3 linked regions of the Homo sapiens genome follow. The protein of the gene in region 2 interacts with the protein of the main gene of each other region in a biochemical or structural test. Each region holds a gene or a part of one and is shown on either strand. Other genes may lie near its edges.

Region 1 (7,026 bases), on a different chromosome or scaffold from region 2:
AAGAAGTCTTCAACCTCTTCTTCCATGTGCAAGTTCACTGCACCCTGTGAAGACAACAGAGACCCTTGGAACCTGCACGTTTCACACATGAAGTAATGATTCAGCAAGATGTAATGATTCATCAAGAGTGATCTTTAAGTCCACAAGACCAGTTTGTGATTTTTGCAGTTCTTCTAGCTGAATAGCCCAGTAGACCATTTGGCACCTGTATCTCAATGGAGCTTTGTGGGTCCGTACACGTTCATCATACAGTAATGCACATGGGGACTGGAAATGGGCAATTCAAATATGACAATGGTACACTTTATAGGTAGTTTTATAAATTTGGGGATTTTCAAAAGCCACAAGACAATGGCAAACAGTAACATCGTATTTAAAGTACCTCCTTACTATATTTAAACACTATTAATCGGGTAAAACATTAAAATGGCAGGCCAGGCGCCGTGGCTCATGCCTGTAATCCTAGCACTTTGGGAGGCTGAGGCGGGCGGTTTGCCTGAGCTCAGGAGTTTGAGACCAGCCCGGGCAACATGGTGAAACCCCGTCTCTACTAAAAAAAAAAAAAAATTAGCCGGGCGTGGCAGCGTGCACCTGTAGTCCCAGCTACTTGGAAGGCTGAGGCAGGAGAATTGCTTGAACCCAGGAGGCAGAGGTTGTGGTGATCCGAGATCATGCCACTGCACTCCAGCCTGGCGACAGAGCGGACTCTGTCTCAAAAAAAAAAAAAAAAAAAGATTAAAATGGCAAAATCAGTTCCTTTCTTCTTGGGAACGTGTGTCCCAACACGCCCCTCCACCAGGCAGCTTGCTGAACAATCAACTTTGGAGGCATCACTAGGCCTGGCACAGACACCAGGACATGTTGCCAGAGATGGTCTTCTCCTCATCAGGAGCCCTGGGGTGCTCAGACATTGGTACCCAAGCCTCTTAAATGCTATGAAACCCATTCTTGTCCCCCGAATGACTTAAACATCAGTGGGTACCTCCTACAAGTGTCCTTGATAATGATGGTGTGAGGGACAAACATGAAGAATAACTGTGCACAAGGTGGTAGAGAGTATTGCAGACAAGGGAACATTCGTTAAGAGCACCCGGAATCAAATGCCTTCCACACTCACTGTATTGTTTCAAAATTCTAACAACTAGCATATGAGCTAAGTGGCCAGGTGTCACTGTCCTCCCCACTTTAAAACCACAGATCCTGTTTAGGGCTCCTTCTACAGCAAGTCTCAGGAATCCATACCTTGATGTGGCCTCCCTCGTATTCATATGGGTATCGACAGTCGATGATAACAAACTCTTTAATGAGGTTGGCAAACTTGCCATTCAAAACAGATGCCATCTGTTGAGAGAAAATTAGGGAGAATCAACTTTGACCGTCAGGGAAAACTAGATTCAAGTACCCGATGTGTGGTGGGTTTCAAAAGGATGGACTTACAATTTCTGGAGAGATGTATTTTAAATCCTGATGTTTCCCAGCAACTGTATGAAAGAGATAACCCTTAAAAAGAAAAAAAGATACTTAGAGAATCTGAAAGCCTATATATTATTCACACTTATACTGTTTTGTCTGGCTGGTAGGAGGCATCTTTTAAAAAACAAACATTAATGGCCAGGCACGGTGGCTCACACCTGTAATCCCAGCACTTTGGGAGGCCGAGGCTAGTGGATCACCTGAGGTCAGGAGTTCGAGACAAGCCTGGCCAACATGGTGAAACCCCAACTCTTTTAAAAATACAAAAATTAGCCGGGCGTTAGCATGCACCTATAGTCCCAGCTACTCGGAAGGCTGGAGTGGGAAAATCGCTTGAATCCAGGAGGCGGAGGTTGCAGTGAGCTGAGATTGCACCACTGCACTCCAGCCTGGGTGACAGAGCAAGACTCCCTCTCAAAAAACAAACAAACAAACAAGCAAACAAACATTAGTTAGTACACACTAGTTACTCTTCTAGTTACTTCATTAACATCCTGACATTTAATTTTCACACAAACCAATGAGGTATATTATCCCCATTTTGAGCACCTTATCCAAGGTTACCTAGCTAGTAAGGCAGATTTAAATAAAGAAACCTCAGGTAATCTCATTTTCCTCCTGCTTTTGTCAAGAATCCACACGTCAGTAGTTAGACTGCGAATAGCACTTAAACATACAGATTTCACTCATTTACTGAGCACCTGCTATGTCCAGCATGGTGCCAGGCACTGGGGATAGGAAAAAAAGAGACCTAGCCCAGCCTTGAGGAGGAAGATGCACACATTAGCAATTACTCATTAGGGTGACTGGCTGAGCCAAGAGTTCATCTATCCCCATGCATAGGCCCATTAAGACAAATATAACCAGGCCTCAATTCAAGTTGAAAATTCCACTGAGTGTGGTGGTGCATGCCTGTAGTCCCAGCTACTTGGGAGGCTGAGGCAGGGGGAGCACTTGAGGCCATAAGTTTGAGGCTACAGTGTACTATGATAGCATGTGCGAATAGCCACTGCACTACAGCCTGAGCAACATAGTAAGACCACATCTCTCCCTGCCAAACAAGAGAAGGTTCCAAAACTGAGGATACAGCTGGATCTTTGCTTGTTCTCTTCATTCTCCGTTCCTTCAAAACCCATTTGGGCTGAAATATCAACGGCCCAACCCCAGACGTTCCCCAACCCCCTAGCCAAGATAAACCCTTTTACTTCTCACGGCATGCTGTTTATGTTTACACCTCACTAAAATTTATTTCAGTCTACCATGTGGTACATGTAGTTCACGTCTCACCTCTCCAACCACATGCTAAATTCTTTGAGGGAAGGAACTGTATCTCATTTTGGAATCTCTGCCTAACACATAAGTGCTTCAATAAATGTTAACTAAATTAATGAATAAAACATTGATCTGGTAACCTTCAAGTCAAAATGTGATTAAAGAAGCTGCTATTGACACATTCCCTGTCCTAGCCTTGTATTTTACTGCAGCCAAGCCTTCATGTAGTATATCAGGCTATTAGAAGATCTTCCTCTAGACTTCCTGGAGGGTCTTTTCCCTCAATGGCCAAGCTTCTCTGAACGGAGAAATTCAGTCTCAATCCCAGACCTTCTAAGATAACCTTTCAACATGCAGACTTGTAGTGTGGCTACAGATTTATTTCTGCTGTACACTATCCTGCTAATTACTATTTTTATAATAACACAGTTCCCAGAGAGCCTAGTCTTTGGGTTACAATCAAGGTGGTTGGTGGACAGCTCCCTACCTAAAACTGCCCATCAGCTATAGTGATATCTACAGTCTCAGAAACCAACATATACCTGATCATGAGAAACTAAGTTTGCTTCCCTACCTTTAACATTCTTTTAACTGTGTCCTTTTGGAGGTATGCCAGGAACCACCCTGGGGAGGGAGACAGGCTGAGTGGGATTCTAAATACCCACACTCCCTCCTACACTTGCCAGAGCAGCTCTGCTTGCAATTACCTTGGAGAAGTCTCCTATAAGGTCCCTTGGGTCATTGTCCAAAATGTTCTCAATGGTTCCTTTGGGGGAAGATGCCAGGGATAAAGACTGATGAAGAGTCTGTAACAAATCAAAGGTAGAGAATGAGACAAGGGTTCTGAATGGAACTTCCGAAAACATTCACTTGGAGCATGTCTCGAGGAGACTAAAATGTTAATGCCTACATTTAGTAAGAAGTTTTTATTTTATTTTATTGAATCTGGAGTGAACAAAAACAGATGTGGGTTATTGACTAGGTCTCCTATTATTCCAGTGTCTAACCGAATTGCTCTGAAACTAAGTTTTCCTTCCTTCCTTAAAAAAAAAAAAAAAAAAAGGGGGTGCAGGTGGTTTGGCTCATGCCTGTAATCCCAGCACTTTGGGAGGCCAAGGTGGGTTACTCACTTGAGCCCAGGAGTTCCAGACCAGCCTGGGCAAGGCAGGTGAATCGCTTGAGCCCAGGAGTTCCAGACCAGATCAAAGAGCAAGACCCTGTCCACACACACACACACACACACACACACACACACACACACACACACACAAGCTGGGCATGGTGGTGTGTGCCTGTAGTCCCAGCTACTTGGGAGGCTGAAGTGGGAGGATCACCTGAGCCTGGGGAGGTCGAGGCTACAGCAAGTGGTGATGGTGCCACTGCACTCCAGCCTGGGTGACAGACTGAAACTATCTCCAGAAAAAGAGAAAGAAACAAGGGGGGTTAAAACTAGGATTAAGTTTAGAAAAAGTATGTCTTAACTTTTTTTTTTTTTTTTTTTTAAAAAGACAGAGTCTCGCTCTGTCGCTCAGGCTGGAGTGCAGTGGAGTACAGGAGTGGAGTGCAGGCTGGAGTACAGTGATCTTGGCTCACTGTAACCTCTGCCTCCCAGGTTCAAGCGATTCTGCCGCAGCCTCCAGAGCAGCTGAGACTATAGGTGTGCGCCACCACGCCCAGCTAATTTTTGTATTTTTAGTAGAGACGGGGTTTCACCATGTTGGCCAGATGGTCTTGAACTCCTGGCCTCAGGTGATCTGCCTGCCTTGGCCTCCCAAAGTGCTGGGATTACAGGTGTGAGCCACCGCGCCCGGCCTACGTCTTAGCTTTATTCAATGAGAAGAGGAAGCCAGCTGTTAAAAAGGGGATAATTTGAGTAAAAGGATAATACTTGTAATACACAGAAACACATTAAATGTTTTAACCCATGAATTCCTGATTATTATTGAAAAACAACTATAAGTCTTGCTTTCAACTTTGGAAGATGCTTGGTAGGGCATTATTTGGAAACTGGCAAATAAAGAGATCCAATATTCATCCTGCCTTTCCCAAGGGTAACCACAGTGTTTGATGAGTGTAAGTTTCTCTTTATAGATATATTCTAGCTAATTAATGAGGAAAGAATGTAAAAACTGCAGTATCATCTTTCTGAAACCCTGGTGAAATGAAGTAAAAAATCTGGGCAGCAATCACCAATGGCTGCCTGGCACATTATACTTCCTGATCAAAGTAGACAAAATCACCTATGTGATATTCTTGCCAAACAAATAGAACTGGAATTCAATCCATCCTTTCCAGAGTTAGGTTAAGGCAATATAGGGGATAGAAGACAATGTCTGAAGACCCCACAGGACTGTGGGAACCTTTGCAGGACAAATGACTTGAGCTCTTCAACAAATAAAAATATGCAAGAGGGAAACAGATGGAGCACTGAAATCTGAAGAGTAAGAGACCTATTGACCAACTACAGTGTATAGACTTTATTTGGATCCAGATTTTAACAAATAAACTGTAAAAGTACTTAGGAGACAACTGGGGAAAACTGAACCCAGACTGGATATTTGACATTTGATAGTAAGAAATTTAGCTCTGCCGGGCGTGGTGGCTCATGCCTGTAATCCCAGCACTTTGGGAGGCCGAGGTGAGTGGATCACTTGATGTCAGGGGTTCGAGACCAGCCTTGCCAACATGGTGAAACCCCGTCTCTACTAAAAATATAAAAAATTAGCCAGGCGTGGTGGTGGGCGCCTGTAGTCCCAGCTACTTGGGAGGCTGAGGCGGGAGAATTGCTGGAACCTGAGAGGCGGAGGTTGCAGTGAGCAGAGATCGACCCATGGCACTCCAGTCTGGGCGACAGAGCGAGACTTGGTCTCAAAAAAAAAAACAAACAAAAAAACACCCAGAAATTTAGCCCTGTATGATATGTTTGTGTGAGGAAAACACCCCACAAACTCAAAGTGATTTTTCTTATTCCCTCACTCAACAGCAACAGAAGACAGAAGTGCTGTTACCCCCAGATATGAGGGGATTTCTCCCTACCAGCAAGCAAGCAAGCAAGCAAGCAGTTCTGCAGTGGAAAATAGCTGGGTGCCGTCCAATTCAATTCTGACACTATCTACCTGCAGAGCGTCAGATCAGGAAGTTGAGGGCCCAGTCCTCAAAACCACACCACCCTTCAGACACCAGTTGGGCCTCTGGATCTTCTGATCTACGACCACCAGCTTTAAGTAGGGGTTCCCATGACCCCTTCTTTGGGTTTAATTTGCTAGAAGTGGCTCACAGAACTCAAGAAAACACATTTACCAGTTTATTATGAAGGATATTCAAAGGATATAGAAGAAGACATGCATAGGGTGAGGTATGGGAGAAGGGACATGGAGCTGCCATGCTCTCCTTGGGTGCCCCAACCTCCAGGAACCTCCATGTGTTCAGCTATCCAGAAGCTCTCTGAACCCTGTCCTTTCAAGGTTTTAGGGAGGCTTCATTACATAGAAATGATTGATTAAACCATTGGCCATGAGTGATCAACTTGACCTTTAGCCCCTCTCCTTTCCGTAGATATTGGAGGGTGGGGCTGAAAGTTCCAACCTCTAATCATGTCTCTGTCTTTCCAGTGACCAGTCCCACCCTGAAGCTATCAATCATTAGTATACAAAAAGATATGACCTTGGATATTCCAAAGATTTTAGGAGTTATATGACAGAAGGGGAAGAAGACTAAATATATATTTCACAATATCACAGGTATGATAACTGTACTCTAGCAATGCTTGACATTTTCTCCACAATGGAATTTAAAATACTAAAAATTAAAATATATGAAAATAAACCAAAACATGAGGGCCAATATATATACAAAATAATTATTAACAGTATTATTTTATCCAAAAAAAGTTTTACAAATATGGAAATAAAAAGGTCAATCTCTATTACGGTAAAAGAAAATGAATATTCTGGCCGGGCACAGTGGCTCACACCTGTAACCCCAGCACTTTGGGAGGCCAAGGCGGATATATCACCTGAGGTCAGGAGTTCAAGACCAGCCTGGCCAACTTGGTGAAACTCCGCCTCTACTAAAAATACAAAAAAAATTAGCCAGGCGTGGCAGTGGGCACCTGTAATCCCAGCTACTCAGGAGGCTGAGGCAGAGACTTGCTTGAACTGGGGAGGCGGAGGTTGCCGTGAGCCAAGATCCTGCCACTGCACTCCAGCGTGTCTCAAAAAGAAAGAAAAAGAAAATGAATATTCTTTTTTTTTTTTTTTTGAGATGAAATCTCACTCTATC
Region 2 (7,026 bases):
TATCAGAGAATGTGTCTGTATAATTTCTACTTTATGAAACGTGGGGGTTTTTTTGGTGGCCTAATATATTTTTGTAACCATGAGTGTTTCATGCAAACATGCATTTTTGGTCTTGGGGATGTAAAACCATATATTATAAACATACCAATTATTAGGTATATTATTCAAATCTATGTCATATATCATAATCTCTTAGAGCATCTCTGGGAGGTGTACTGAGTCTTCCACTTCAGCTGTGGCTTTATTGGGATGTTATGTGGTAAAGCATCCATCAATGCTGTCCTGTGGAAGGCTCTACATTTAGGTTGTTTAAAAGTCATTATTTCTAGGCCAGGTGTGGTGGCTCACGCCTGTAATCCCAGCAATTTGGGAGGCCAAGGCGGATGGATCACTTGAGGTCAGGAATTCGAGATCAGCCTGGCCAACAAGGTGAAACCAAGTCTCTACTAAAATACAAAAATTAGTCGGGTGTGGTGGCAGGTGCCTGTAATCTCAGATACTTAGGAGGCTGAGGCAGAAGAATCTCTTGAACCCAGGAGGCAGAGGTTGCAGTGAGCCAAGATCGTGCCACTGCACTCCAGCCTGGATGACAGAGCGAGACTCCCTCTCTAAATAAATAAATAAATAAATAAATAAATCTGGAAAACATGGCATATGGAACCACATGTTCAGCAAGAATGCATCTTGCCCATGTGAACTGCCAAAAGTGAGGGCTGAAGACTAGTTGCCAAAGCTGTTAAAAGAGGGCTGGGCGTGGTGGCTCACGCCTTTAGGAGGCCGAGGCAGTCGGATCACCTGAGGTCACAAGTTCAAGACCAGCCTGGCCAACATGGCGAAACCCCGTCTCTACTAAAAATATAAAAAAATTAGCTGGGCGTGGTGGCACAGGTCTGTAATCCCAGCTACTCAGGAGGCTGAGGTATGAGAATTGCTTGAACCTGGGAGGCAGAGGTTGTGGTGAGCAGAGATTGTGCCAGTGCACTCCAGCCTGGGCAACAGAGCAAGATTCTGTCTCAAAAAAAAAAAGCTGTTAAAAGATCAGATGCAGACATTTGATGTCCCTCTGTCAGAGTGAGAGGGAAGACAGTAATCTCAACGTTCTGCTCAGAAGAGCATTTAAAATAGTCAGAAACTGGAAAAGTACGCCCCAGCCCCTAGTCAAAGGTGCACATGAAACGATAGCCCTGACGTATGGTAAGGCTGAAACTGTTTACATTACATTATATAAATTAGAATAATTTCAGATCAGTTTCCAAGCTGAGCCCACACACAACCTCATCTTGGTCTAAAACTTCAAAATGAACACACAAGAGGGACATCTTTAAAAAATAAATAGATAAAAAATAAAAAATAAATCTTAATTATAATCTGGGAATAGGAGTGAAAGTAGAGATAATCTCCAAAAGCCTCTTAAAGTTTAAAATACCAAAATCGGAGCCAGCTCTCATCCAGCAGGTGTGGCAGGTATCACTCGCCCTTGCCATGTTAGAGCTATGTGGTGTTATTTTACTGGATGAAGGAACCATAAAGCCTACTTAAAGGTCAACTTCTTAAAAATCTATTTCTGCTCCTTCCCCTGAATGCAGGAGCCCATGGCAGACTACAGCAGCAGGGATCAACAGCGAACAGACCTCCAGCATTGTCTTCAGCTCTCTCTAAGCTAAGCTAACACTTAATTCTCTAACAAGTAATTCTCGGTGACTCCTGCTAAGGACCCCTTGCTTTTGGAAAACTACAGAATTTTCCAAAAGGTACAGGGACATGTCTTAACCTACATGGTATGTCTGCTGGACTTGGTCAGGTCCCCATGACATTTAAGGGCCAGCCACTAGCCAGGCCATAGGCTGTTTATGAACACAGGTTAGGGAATCTATGATGAAGAGTCTTGTGTTTCCCAAAAGGAGGAATTCACTCTTGGATTGCATTTCCTGAGGCTTTATTTTTAGTCCAAACTTAATACCAACTTCCAAATGCCAGAGGGCAACCTCTGTAAGGCAATTGGCCTTACAGGATAGCATTTTCTTTACTCTCAACAGGAAATACAGAAGCCAAGACAGGTGCAAAGTTTGCCTCTTCTGTAATTCCTCTTATCAATGCCATTACGAAATCCCATGATCTATGGGAAACCTATGGTTAAGTCTGAAGGTTTTAAAAAGGCACAATCCCAGGCTGAGCATGGTAGCTCATTCCTGTAATCCCAACATTTGAGAGAATCACTTGAGCCCAGGAGTTTGAGACCAGCCAAGGCAATATAGTGAGACCTCATTTCCCCCAAAAAAATTTTTAAATTAGCCAGGTGTGGTGGTGCATGCCTGTATTCCCAGCTACTCGGGAGGCTGAGGCAAGAGGATCACTTGAACCTGGGAGGTCAAGGATCCAGTTAGCCATAATCATACCACTGCAGTCCAGCCTGGATGACAGAGCAAAATTTTGTTTTATAAAATAAAAAAATAAATAAGTCATGGTACCTCAGGGAACCCCAAGCTCCTCAGAATGGGTTAATTCTAAATCTGGCAATGGAGGCAGGAATGGAGCCATCCCAACAGCTGCTACCTGGCTCCTGGGCAAGGCCTCTGTCCATAGGTAAAGCCAGCTAATAAAGAGCCCAGCACAAATACAGTCCTACTAGGCTCCTGGGGAAGAGTGCTAACTGGTGTTATTTTAATGTACCAGAACCCCTGGGAAGGCACAGGCTGAGAATACAGTGCTGAGGAAGTGGGGTATTACACCCCAGATAGTGCTTATGCATTAGGCTCAGTCCCTCAAAACTTAGAATAGTGGAAACCGTTCTCATGGACCTGCCCAGTTATTTTGGTTCTAAGCTAGAATCAATCTGCTAGATGGTTTACCATGGCAACACAAGGTGAAGCAGAAACCCTGGGACAGGAGAGTCAAGCGCTGTGGCCAGGACACCTAAGGCTTAGAGGGTTTTCCAGTAGAACCTTTCCATATCTTCCTTTGTAAAAGCTAAGGGTAGGAGAGGTGTGTGGGAGAACCACAGCCAGCAACAAAGGGGGTCCTTTTTGCTAAAAGAGACTCAGCCAGTTGCTTTGTCAGGACAAGAGGGAAGGAGAGTAGGGATGGGCTAGTAAAGACAAACTTCACACTGACTGTGAAACTCAGACTCATCCTTGTCTAGTCCACTGTGGCTAAACGAACACTGCACCCCCTCCCTGTTTCCTACAGGCCATCACAATGGCCATAGGGTCCAGCCACAGCTCACCTCATGAGTTCCATGAGAGAAGTTCAGACGAGCCACATTCATTCCAGACTTAATCATCTCCTTCAACGTCTCCACTGATCGGGAAGCTGGGCCTATTAGGAAAAGTTTTAAAGCCACAAGTATTAATTATTCAAAGAAGGAAAAACATTTAAGTTTGCTTAAGTTTAAAGAATTTTTTTCCCTGAAAACTTTTCCTCTCCCAAATAGCTCAAAAGTCTTTAAAAAGTGCATGGAAGGCTACTACCGTGCCAGCTTACTTTCTTGATCTACTGGGACACTTCGACCATTTCCTTCAAGTTCTGCAGGCTCCCACTGTATCAGAAAAGCCTAGGTTAAGACTTGGCCAGCCTTCTCCACCCTCACTGAAACCCAGCCAGATGTCCAACCACAGAATCTTGGTAGCACAGAACATGTTAGAAAGATCTTTCCTAGGTCTTTAAGTTGCTCCTACAAAGACCTGCTAAGGAAAACATCTTCTAAATTTTGCCTATAGCATAAAACCTAAACCATATGGATTCTTTTTGCAACAAATTATTTTTTATTATAAACTGGTAATTTATAATTTGGGTTACAAAGTTATGTAATCCAATACATACAGTTTGGATACAATGTGGAATAATTAAATCAGGTTAGTTAACATATCCATGACTTCAAATACTTAACATTTTTGTGGTGAGAACATTTGAAATTTACTCTTAGCGATGTTTTTTTCTTTTTTCTTCCTTTTTTTTTTGAGGCAGAGTTTCGTTCTTGTTGCCAAGGCTGGAGTGCAATGGTCAGATCTCAGCTCACTGCAACCTCCGCCTCCCAGGTTCAAGCAATTCTCCTGCCTCAGCCTCCCAAGTAGCTGGGATTATAGGTACCCGCCACCACCCCCGGCTAATTTTTTTGTATTTTTAGTAGAGATGGGATTTCACCATGTTGGCCAGGCTGGTCTCGAACTCCTGACCTCAGGTGATCCACCTGCCTCAGCCTCCCGAAGTGCTGGATTACAGGCATGTGCCACTGCGCCCGGACAATTTTTTTTTCTTAAGACAGGATCTCGCTCTGTTGCCTAGACTGGAGTGCAGTGGTGTGATCATGGCTCACTGCAACTTCAATCTCCTGGACTCAAGTGATCTTTGTCTCAGCCTCCCATGTAGCCAGAACTACAGGTGCATGCCACCATGCCCAGCTAATTTTTTTTTTTTTTTTTTCACTTTTTGGAGAGACAGGGTCTAAGTTGCTCAGGCTGGTCTCAAATTTCGAGGCTCAGGCAATCCTCCCACGTTGGCCTCCCAAAGTGCTGGGAGCCACCATACCTCGCCATCTTAGCAATTTTGAAATGTCTAATACTCTCTTATTAACTGTATTTGCCATCCTATGCACATACTAATTCTTTACTGCAACTTCCTATGACCTGAGTCCTTTCATAAGAATCTGTGTAGTATCCCATGTAGCACCTAGGTTTGTTAGGACATTTAGTTACTCTTTTCAGGAGAGAAAGGTCACTGCCCATGAAGCCCTTTTTTGGGGGAAGGGGCACACCCACTCACCAATGGTACAGATGATGCCAGTGTTCCGGGCTGTGATGGGTGGTGAATCAATGTCCAGGCGGCACATGTGCTCCAGGAATGTGTCAGCCATGGCTGCGTGCAGCTGCTGGGTCTGAATGAAGGCAGTCCCGGCTTCACTATGGGGCTTCGACATGGCTGCTGAGGTCCTGGGTCGAGACAAATTGAAAGAGAGTGGTAAGACTGAGAAGTGGTTAATATACCATTTAGCACAGAAGGCTGTCTCCTGCTTACACATTAACTCAATAAGCACGCTTTGTACACAAGCCACAGGGAAGCCAGACATGATCTGGTTATGTGGGTGCTCCTCATGTTAGAAAAAGGGTTCACCAGATTGTGAACAATGGAAAGGACCTTACTGAACAAGTTAAAACCTCCCACCCACTCCACATAGTCCCAAGCACCCACAGTAAGCAGGTCTCTCTTACACTGGGCTGACTGACATCTACCTAGACAGCTTTCTCACCACCCTATCTATAAATAACATCATTTAACATGCACTGAAGGAGCTTCCAATGAAGGAAGTTGTAACCAATCTTCCAGTGATACAAACAACTGACTCCTAGCTTAGTGCCTTGATAAGCCTAGATCTCTGCATGTCAAGCTGTCACAAAGCTACAAATAGCTGCTTTGTCGTGGGGCACCCATATTGCCTCTTTACAATCCTCACCCAAACCCAAAGTCATTCCCCTGAATGCAAAAGCTTCCATCCCAGGAGTCTAAACCTAAAACCACATCTACTGTTGGCCAGAAGGATGTCAGGACACGCAAAGCAATTTGCAATTTGCAAAGCAAGGATAACATAAGGGCACTGGTATAATTCTGAAATTATCACAACTACATTAACAGGATAGTTGCAAACATAGAGAAATTAAAGTTGCTGGTCAAATCTTTTCCCCAAATGATTTTTGATACACATCCTGATTTCTTTTCTAAGCCTGACAAGTATACCACCACTCTGTAACACAGACCATCAGTTCCAGGTAATTAACTAGCCCAGGTCACAACCCTGACAATGGCCCCAACCTTTGCTTTCTTCATTAATGACTTACAACTAAACTCACTCAGCCTGTTAGTTAGCTGATTAGAGACAAAAACTCAGGAGAAGCTTCCAGGCAGTGTTTGAATAACTATCAGGTAAGGATGTGAACCAGACCAGGCAGTGTTTGAAGAACTATCAGGTAAGGATGTGAACCAGAAGCTTGCTACACGTCTCATCAGAAAGCTGTTTCCTTGAGTTCTCAGACCAAGGGCTACTCTTTCTAAAACGCTTGAGCCTAAATGCTTCGGCCAAGCAAGGCTCAGGAACAAGCTCCTCTTTAGCCCTTCCCCACCTCATCCTAAATCTCAAAGTTCCAAATCAAGGCATCTCACACATATGACCCTTACTCCTTTACCCTGTTCCATCTCTGACTTTGTGGGCTCTCTGGGTGGCTCGAGTAGAGTATACATCTAAATCCATCTCTGCCATCTCCAAAGAAGGCCCGCTGAGGTCCAAGGAGCTCTGAAGGCAGTAGTGAACAGTCTGTTGGCTATGGAAAACTGATGGCCACAAGTCCTCAACCACAGATTCTAAAACTTTTAAAATGGGGAAATAAGATACCGGCTAACGGTTCAACATGGCAAATGCACTCTTCATTTCGATGTGTATTTCCTAAGCCCCTAATATCTACTACGTACCAAAATGAAAAAATCAATCCTCCCTTCCAGGACCTATATGGTTTTGTATCTCCTAGCACCTAGTATGTGGAAGCATTCCAGTGTTTGTTAAATGACCTTTCAGTCTCTCTGAATGCCTCTTTGTCAGAATCAAAGTTATGCCTCTGCTCCCCCTTCCCTAAATCTGAGGAACTTCTGCATTACTGACAGGAAAGCCTGGGGCCCCTGGTCCCTTTCCCTACACTCATGGTTGAGGGAGGGCTCGCATACCTTCAGAGCTCCCAGCTGGGCTTAGGGAAGTCTGGCTGTTAAGGGAACATTACTGAGAGATGGCACATCAGGCCAACTGGAACACAAAGGCTTTGCTGTGGCCTCCAATGGGCCTACAATCTAGGGACTGTATTGTGAACAAAATAAGATCTGAATAAGTGGGTTGGAGTAACTAATTCCACTCTTTTTAAAAACCATCAGCTGGCTCTTCTTAGACCTGAGATATGAGGGTCTTCCTGTAAAGACCTGGCTGGGGCCACTGAATATCAGGTCATACCTTTGGTTCTCTGGGGTTGGGCTTCCGGTGACATAATGCTCCCC
Region 3 (7,026 bases), on a different chromosome or scaffold from region 2:
AGATGGAGAAGAGTGTGCATGGTGTTTATTAAGAACTATACTTAGGATCAAGATTTGGAGAAGAGGAGAAGGGGGCAGGAATGGGTTTAGTGGCAGCCCCAGTTGGCCAACAGGGAGTTCTGGGGCCAGAATGACCCTTGAGAGTTGCCCCAGGTTGGGCTGTGATGACCTAGTCTTTATATCAGGGATCAGCAAGTTATGGCCTATAGGCCAAACCCAGGTTGCCACCTATTTTTTAACTAAAGTTTTATTGGAACACAGCCACACCCATCATGTACATGTCATCTGTGGCTGCTTTCATGATACATTAGCAGAGCTGAGTAGTTGGGACAGACTGCAAGGCTGGCAAAGCCTAAAATATTTAGGATCTGCCCTTGATGGAAGTTTGGCAGGCCCTGTTATGTTCCCTCATTGATCAGTTGCTGAATGGACAGTCTCTGACCTCTGTGGCCTCGGCTGCGCTGGAGGGTCCCCTTCTAAGGTGCCTTCCTTGCTCGAGGCTCCTTGGCCTTGTTCTCCAAGGACATCTCTTCTTCCTGGGTTTCTCCACGTGGCACAGTGGTTTGGCATCGTCGTACTTCTTGCATCTTACCTGAGGGCTTCAGGAGGTGGGACCTGGAGGCCCCCAGTCCATGAAAAGCCACAGCAGGGCTGGCAAAATCACTTGTGCCATTGGTCAAAGTGATCATGGGGCCTGCCCAGATTCAAGAGATGGAGCCACAGATGCCGCCCACTGCCTGAAGGAGGATGGCACAATCACGGTGCAGAAGAGCATGAGGATGAGATGCTGTCAGACCGTCTTCGGAAAAATGTGGAACACCATGGCAGGCCAGGTGGCTGCTCGGCAGTGCCGTGTCAATCCCAGCTCACCCAGGTCACCGCTGCAGTGCCTGTCCCTCCCCAACTCCACCCACGGTCCCTGACATCACGTGGGGAGGGAGTTTGAGATGGCCATGGTGGGAATGTGACACCTCGGGAATGGGCTCTACCCACCCCAACGCCAAAGAACCTGCTGCACACCCCTGCTGCCATGGGAGGACTTCTGGTTTGAAGCCACATGGGAAGAAAGACAGCAGCATTTATTGAGCACTAAGGGTCGCTACATGTCCTGGAACCTCAGGATGACTCCGTAAGCTATGATGTTACCCTTTATTTTATAGAAGGGGAGTCAGAGGCTCAGCAAGGTTGGAGGCCCTGGCAGGATTTGAACCATGGTCCCCTCGTTTTTGCCATCCTGCCTCACAGAAGACGGAGCTGGCAGGAGAAGGAGATCCTGGGTCTGAAGAAAGCTTAGGTTGGCAGGGAGGGAGAGAAAGCTGGCCAGAGAAGAGCGGGCAAAGCCTGAGGCCAGGGCAGCATGGGGTTGCCAGAAGGCTGGACAGTGGAGTCCCTGGAAAGGACTCAGGGCCAGCAGACTGCGCCAGCTGTGTGGGTGCTGGAAGATTCACCCCAACCAGGCAGCCAAACTCCTGACGTTTCTCATTGTCTGAAAAATGCATCTCTGTACTCTAAGACAACACAAGCAGAATGCGAGTGAGGTGGGCTCGGGAGGCCCTGAAGAGGGCCACGGAGAGAAAGCCGGCGGCTGGGCACCACATTCACAGCAGAAGTTTCAGTTCCTTCCCCTCACCTTCTTCCTGGGAAGCACAGTGGTTAGGCTCAACCAATGGACCAGTTTTAGGAGGAGGAGCGGGCAGGAAGGGGCTTTCATATTGGATCCTGTAGGAAGCAGTGGTATGCTACAGGGGTGACAGTGGCCTTCTTTATAACAACACTCGTTCCCGCAAGCTGGACCTTACCCACGTGCCAGCCTTGCCAGTTACACATGTCTATTACCTTTCATCCTCATAACCTTCAAGGGAAGAGGTCTTATGACTCCTCTTTGGGGAAATGAGGCTCAAGAGAAGGGGTAACCTTCCGGGTTTCAGGGTGAGCGCGTGGCAGAAGTTAAGACTTGGACTGGATGCAGGCACTTGACTTCTCCACATCACGTGGCCACGGTGCCTGAGTCAGCCCAGTGGTGCGGGGCGCCCCAGAGAGCACAGAAGCCAGGGCTGGAGACCCAGGTGTGATGGGAGAGCTTTCTTTGGGTGAGGTTGGTTCACAATCTCCCACTTTTTCCCCCCTATAGTTGAAGGATTTTCTCTCCCCGTTGTTTGTTTTAAGAATAAGATGCAAAAGTGAGAAGCGGGAGGCCTTGCCTTGTTCCGTGGGCAGACAGTGTGGGGGCTGTGAGGCCAAGGACACCTGGGAGGGGAGAGGGTGGGGGCAGACTGCATCTCCCAAGAGCAGGGTGGGGAGTGCAGGGAAGGGTCAGGAGGAGAGCAAGGCCACTGCTGAGGCAGGGTCCATGTAGGACACCTTTCGCTTGGACTCCTGGATGTCCTGGCTGGGCCCAGGCCCTGCTGTGTCCCCTGGAGGATAGGGGAGGCCTGTGGACTGCTCACAGGAGGGTGTGGCTACCTCTGCCAGGCCCCTGGGGATAGGAGAGTCACTCCACCATCCCCGTAAACCAGTGGGAGGCCCTGCAGCAGGAGCGTGGAATTAAGACGTGGGAAAATGGTCTCAGTTTTTCAGGTGCTTGTTAAAGATGCTGAGTTTTCTGGTCACCATTCTTGGAAGCCCTCACACAGCAGATTGAAAGTGAGGCTCAGAATCTTCATTTTTAAAGCATCCTCAAATAATTCTGATACCCATGGACTCTAGACCGTGCTAAGGAAAACACTGACCTGGAGGGTGAAGGCATGTGGGATCTGAAACTTTTAAGAAAACAGCTTTTTTGTCATTCTTATCTGATCTTATGAGCACCAATTTTCTTACTCTGAATGGATGTAGATGTGGAAGGTATAATGTTTGGGGAGCGCTCTTGCCCTAAGAGAGATAATGAATACAGCAGTTTGTGCATAATTGCACTTAATTATTATGTTGTGAATATATGGTTAAACTTGATAAAGATTAACTTATAAAAACTCTTATTAAAACTTCCCTGTTATTTGCCATTCATCGCTATCGTGGAGTTTTTAGGGGAGCTTGTTCGTCCATCCACCTGATAAAGTTTTGAATGCATGCTGTGTGCCTGGCTCTGGCGGGGAGTGGGGCATACAGCAGTAGCCAATAGCTGGGGTGGGAGGTTCTGACCACTCCCCTCCACCCACTTACAGTCTGGACAGAGAAATAAACTAAAAAAATCCGCAACCAACAACATACATTTTGCTTTTTTTGTAAATGTATTCTTTTTTTTTGTTTTTTTGAGACAGTCTCGCTCTGTCACCAGGCTGAAGGGCAGTGGCACAATCTTGGCTCACTGCCACCTCCGTCTCCCAGGTTCAAGTGATTCTCCTGCCTCAGTCTCCCGAGTAGCTGAGACTACAGGCACACGTCACCATGCCCAGTTGTTTTTTGTATTTTTAGTAGAGACGGTGTTTCTCCATGTTGGCCAGGATGGTCTCGATCTCTTGACCTTGTGATCCGCCCGCCTCAGCCTCCCAAAGTGCTGGGATTACAGGTGTGAGCCATTGCGCCCAGGCTACTAAATGTGATTTTTATAAATGTGTTAGTATTTACATACAAACCAATACTAGACAAGAGAGGAAAAAACCCTTATCAGACCATATATTGTGAATTTGAGTTTTAAAGAATTAATTAAACATGCAAGTTATGAACTTTTCAGGTACTCTCTAATTGAAATAAGAAGATATACACTATAAATTCTGTACAAAGCTGGCTTGCAGATTTTTTTCTCGTCATTAGAGTTAAGACATCACCTCTAAGTATGTTTAATTAAAATGTTTTCAAGATACACTGATATTTTCTTCACAGCATTTCATCTCTGCCCCTCCTCTCATTTGTGAACACGGAACCTTAGGAAAATGGTTCCCAAGTGCTTTCAAGCACAAATGTGTCTGAATGCAGAATTGTCAACAACCTGCACAGAGAATTCTGAATCCATGCTTGGCGGTTTCAGCATAGTCTTTATGCTGTTTTCTTGTCTGAAGTTTGAGCGCACCAATAGTCTATGAGAGAAGGAATCAATATGAAACAGAGTTGTTACCAATAACCTCTGCTTCCGGGTTCTCAGCGTTGCAGGTGGCGAGCTGTTTGACTTCTTAGCTGAAAAGGAATCTTTAACTGAAGAGGAAGCAACTGAATTTCTCAAACAAATTCTTAATGGTGTTTACTACCTGCACTCCCTTCAAATCGCCCACTTTGATCTTAAGGTACGTTTCAAAGTGTAAGCCAGATAGAAGCTTGTGCAGATCACAGCCTTGGTTGTTTCTCTGCTAAGAAAAATTGAGGCATCTGAAAGAGTTACATGATTTTCCTGTACCAGTTTAACAAACAGAAATATCACTATAAATCGGCAAGCATAGGATACATGCCCCCCACTGGGATGGCTAACCTTTTTGTGGGATAGAGGCTTAATGATAATTGATTACATTCTGGAATTCTTGGTAAAGAATACAAGGGGTCTTAGGAGCCAGGTTTTTTAGTAAGGGGGCTGCTCTAGCCAGCAGCTAGTGACTGGCACTGGTTCCTTCTGTGGCTCTGGGCATGTTAAGATAGAAAATGTGTTGAGTGATGCAAAGGCGTATGGCCTGACTCTGTCACCAATAATCAAGCAAACCAAACTCAGATTGGCTAATTGGGGCATTTGCCTGGCTGGATGCAGGACGCTGTTGGAGATGAAAGGGCATGTAAGCCGTCCTCCCAGCCATGACAGAGGTGTGGTCTCTTTGGGAAGGGAAGACACGACAGGAGCAATAGGAAGTGGCAATGGTGGGAAGTTCCAGTTCAAGGCAGGAAGAGGTGGTCTGGTAAAGCAGCGCGTGCTCCATCCGAGTAGTTGATTCAGACCAGTAGAGCTGGGATAGGATTTCAGAGGAGGGAGGATTTTCCCCATTCTTCTGTAGCAGAGCTGTCAATGTCCCATTCATGTCCCTGCTGGCCCCACAAACAATGTGCAAAAGCACACACTCATATACATCCTAACAGAGGGCTTGTTGCAAATACCTGTGACTCTTCCTGGCATCTTGTTTCTGGCCCTGGGAGCTGGAAATGCAAAAGAAAAATGTCCACAGAAGCAACTGTCAGCCATGGAGGATGGAGAAATGGTGGATAAAGACCCCAGCTCCCTCCTGCTACAATTGGAATAACACTGAGTTCTCCTTTTCCTCTCCCATTCCCCCAGTTACCCCCACTTGATAGGACACCTCGTAGCAGCTTCCTTCTGTTTCCTGTATCTCCTTTCTCTACCAAGTGTTTCCTGGTGTCCCCTCCCACATAACCCACTTGCATCCGAATCCTTGTCTCAGGCCTGCTTCAGGGAGAACCTAGAGCAAGACATGTATTTTCCTGCTGTTCTCTTCCAACCACCCTTTCTTCCCTACTTTTTGGCCTTTTTTTTTTTTTTGGAGAGAAGAACTATTCTGCCATCTTGTCCTCAGCATAACATATCATAGCTTTTTATTTATCTCTCTCTTTTTTTCAAGCCTGAGAACATAATGCTTTTGGATAGAAATGTCCCCAAACCTCGGATCAAGATCATTGACTTTGGGTTGGCCCATAAAATTGACTTTGGAAATGAATTTAAAAACATATTTGGGACTCCAGAGTTTGTCGGTAAGTTTCTTTGCTCCTGTGGTCATTTACGTCTCATAAACATTATTCTGGCAAACCTCCCCTGCTAGAAGATTCTTTCCCTGCTACATGTTCCTGGTTGTTGCATGAAGATAGAATCGGTTAGTTTGCTTCCTCCCAAGCTAAATGAGTGTTTGTTTCCTCTTAGCTCCTGAGATAGTCAACTATGAACCTCTTGGTCTTGAGGCAGATATGTGGTAAGGAGTATGTCCTTGGTGTTGTTTGCTTTCTGATTTATTTGACTATTCTTCTGACATGTTTTTTTGTTTGTTTTGTGTTGTTTTTAGGAGTATCGGGGTAATAACCTATATCCTGTAAGTATCAGAATTCACAACTCATACTCTCTTCTCTTCTATGAGACCATAGGTTTAATTAACCATTAAATGTGCTGTGTTGATCTCTTCAGCTTATGCATGCTTTTGATGCAAACATATTCATTTTACACCCCCAAAACATGTTTAGTTTATACTAATTAAACATGTTCTCCTAATTTGAAATGAGTCATCAGAAACTGTAGCATAATCACTGAAAGAAAGCATAGCTGTCCATCACTGCCGAGAAAACAGGTTTCCTTTAAACTACCAGACGCTGTTCCAGATTAACTTGTTAAGTGAATCCTTTTGCCTGAAGCTGAAGCATTTGCTCCTGACAGTTAAAGCCCTATGAAATATAATCAAACTGTGACTATTCGAGCACCAGATTATAATCTTATTCCACACTCCAGATGTTATAGGAGCAAAATGACAACACCAAGGGGTCATCATTAATGTTCTATGCCCAACTTTATTTTTAACAGCCTAAGTGGGGCCTCCCCATTTCTTGGAGACACTAAGCAAGAAACGTTAGCAAATGTATCCGCTGTCAACTACGAATTTGAGGATGAATACTTCAGTAATACCAGTGCCCTAGCCAAAGATTTCATAAGAAGACTTCTGGTCAAGGATCCAAAGTGAGTGTCCACGTTCCTGAAAGGTGCTTGGCCACGGCCTCAGCCAGCCCAGAGCCTGTGTCTGTTCCATGCACAGGGCCACGTTCCTCAGACCCTGCTTGCTTCATCTGCCAAAGGGCAGCATGCCATGTGAAACGCTTCAGAAAATGCAAGCAGGGCCCTCTGCCCCCACTCAGTCAGTCCCTGCAGGCACAGTGAAATAATCACAAAAAGACCGATGTTGTTTTTGGCTTTCTTCCCTGAACTGCATTTTCCACAGTATCTGCTTGGCAGGCCCAGCCAGCATGAAAACAACCTTAGTATTTGCTGCTATGGTCACAGCATTTTTTTTCTTCTCCCCCTCCCCTCAAGGAAGAGAATGACAATTCAAGATAGTTTGCAGCATCCCTGGATCAAGGTGAGTTGCATATTACGAAACTGTTTAGATCACTTTCTATGTG

The links.
Region 1: the proteins of PKM (region 2) and CDC25A form a complex in vitro, tested with the Homo sapiens proteins (one study listed by BioGRID).
Region 3: the proteins of PKM (region 2) and DAPK1 form a complex in vitro, tested with the Homo sapiens proteins (one study listed by IntAct).

The regions. Positions count from the first base shown.
Region 1 is NC_000003.12:48,164,394-48,171,419, forward strand, and holds part of CDC25A (M-phase inducer phosphatase 1), read right to left. Parts: intron 3,552-7,026; coding exon 3,453-3,551; intron 1,501-3,452; coding exon 1,438-1,500; intron 1,342-1,437; coding exon 1,243-1,341; intron 45-1,242; coding exon 1-44. UniProt on the Homo sapiens protein: Tyrosine protein phosphatase which functions as a dosage-dependent inducer of mitotic progression. Directly dephosphorylates CDK1 and stimulates its kinase activity. Also dephosphorylates CDK2 in complex with cyclin-E, in vitro.
Region 2 is NC_000015.10:72,214,186-72,221,211, forward strand, and holds part of PKM (pyruvate kinase PKM), read right to left. Parts: coding exon of another isoform or gene 6,983-7,026; intron 4,926-6,982; coding exon of another isoform or gene 4,913-4,925; coding exon 4,759-4,912; intron 3,316-4,758; coding exon 3,224-3,315; intron 1-3,223. UniProt on the Homo sapiens protein: Catalyzes the final rate-limiting step of glycolysis by mediating the transfer of a phosphoryl group from phosphoenolpyruvate (PEP) to ADP, generating ATP.
Region 3 is NC_000009.12:87,633,865-87,640,890, forward strand, and holds part of DAPK1 (death-associated protein kinase 1), read left to right. Parts: intron 1-4,078; coding exon 4,079-4,217; intron 4,218-5,489; coding exon 5,490-5,619; intron 5,620-5,785; coding exon 5,786-5,834; intron 5,835-5,924; coding exon 5,925-5,951; intron 5,952-6,433; coding exon 6,434-6,586; intron 6,587-6,937; coding exon 6,938-6,983; intron 6,984-7,026. UniProt on the Homo sapiens protein: Calcium/calmodulin-dependent serine/threonine kinase involved in multiple cellular signaling pathways that trigger cell survival, apoptosis, and autophagy.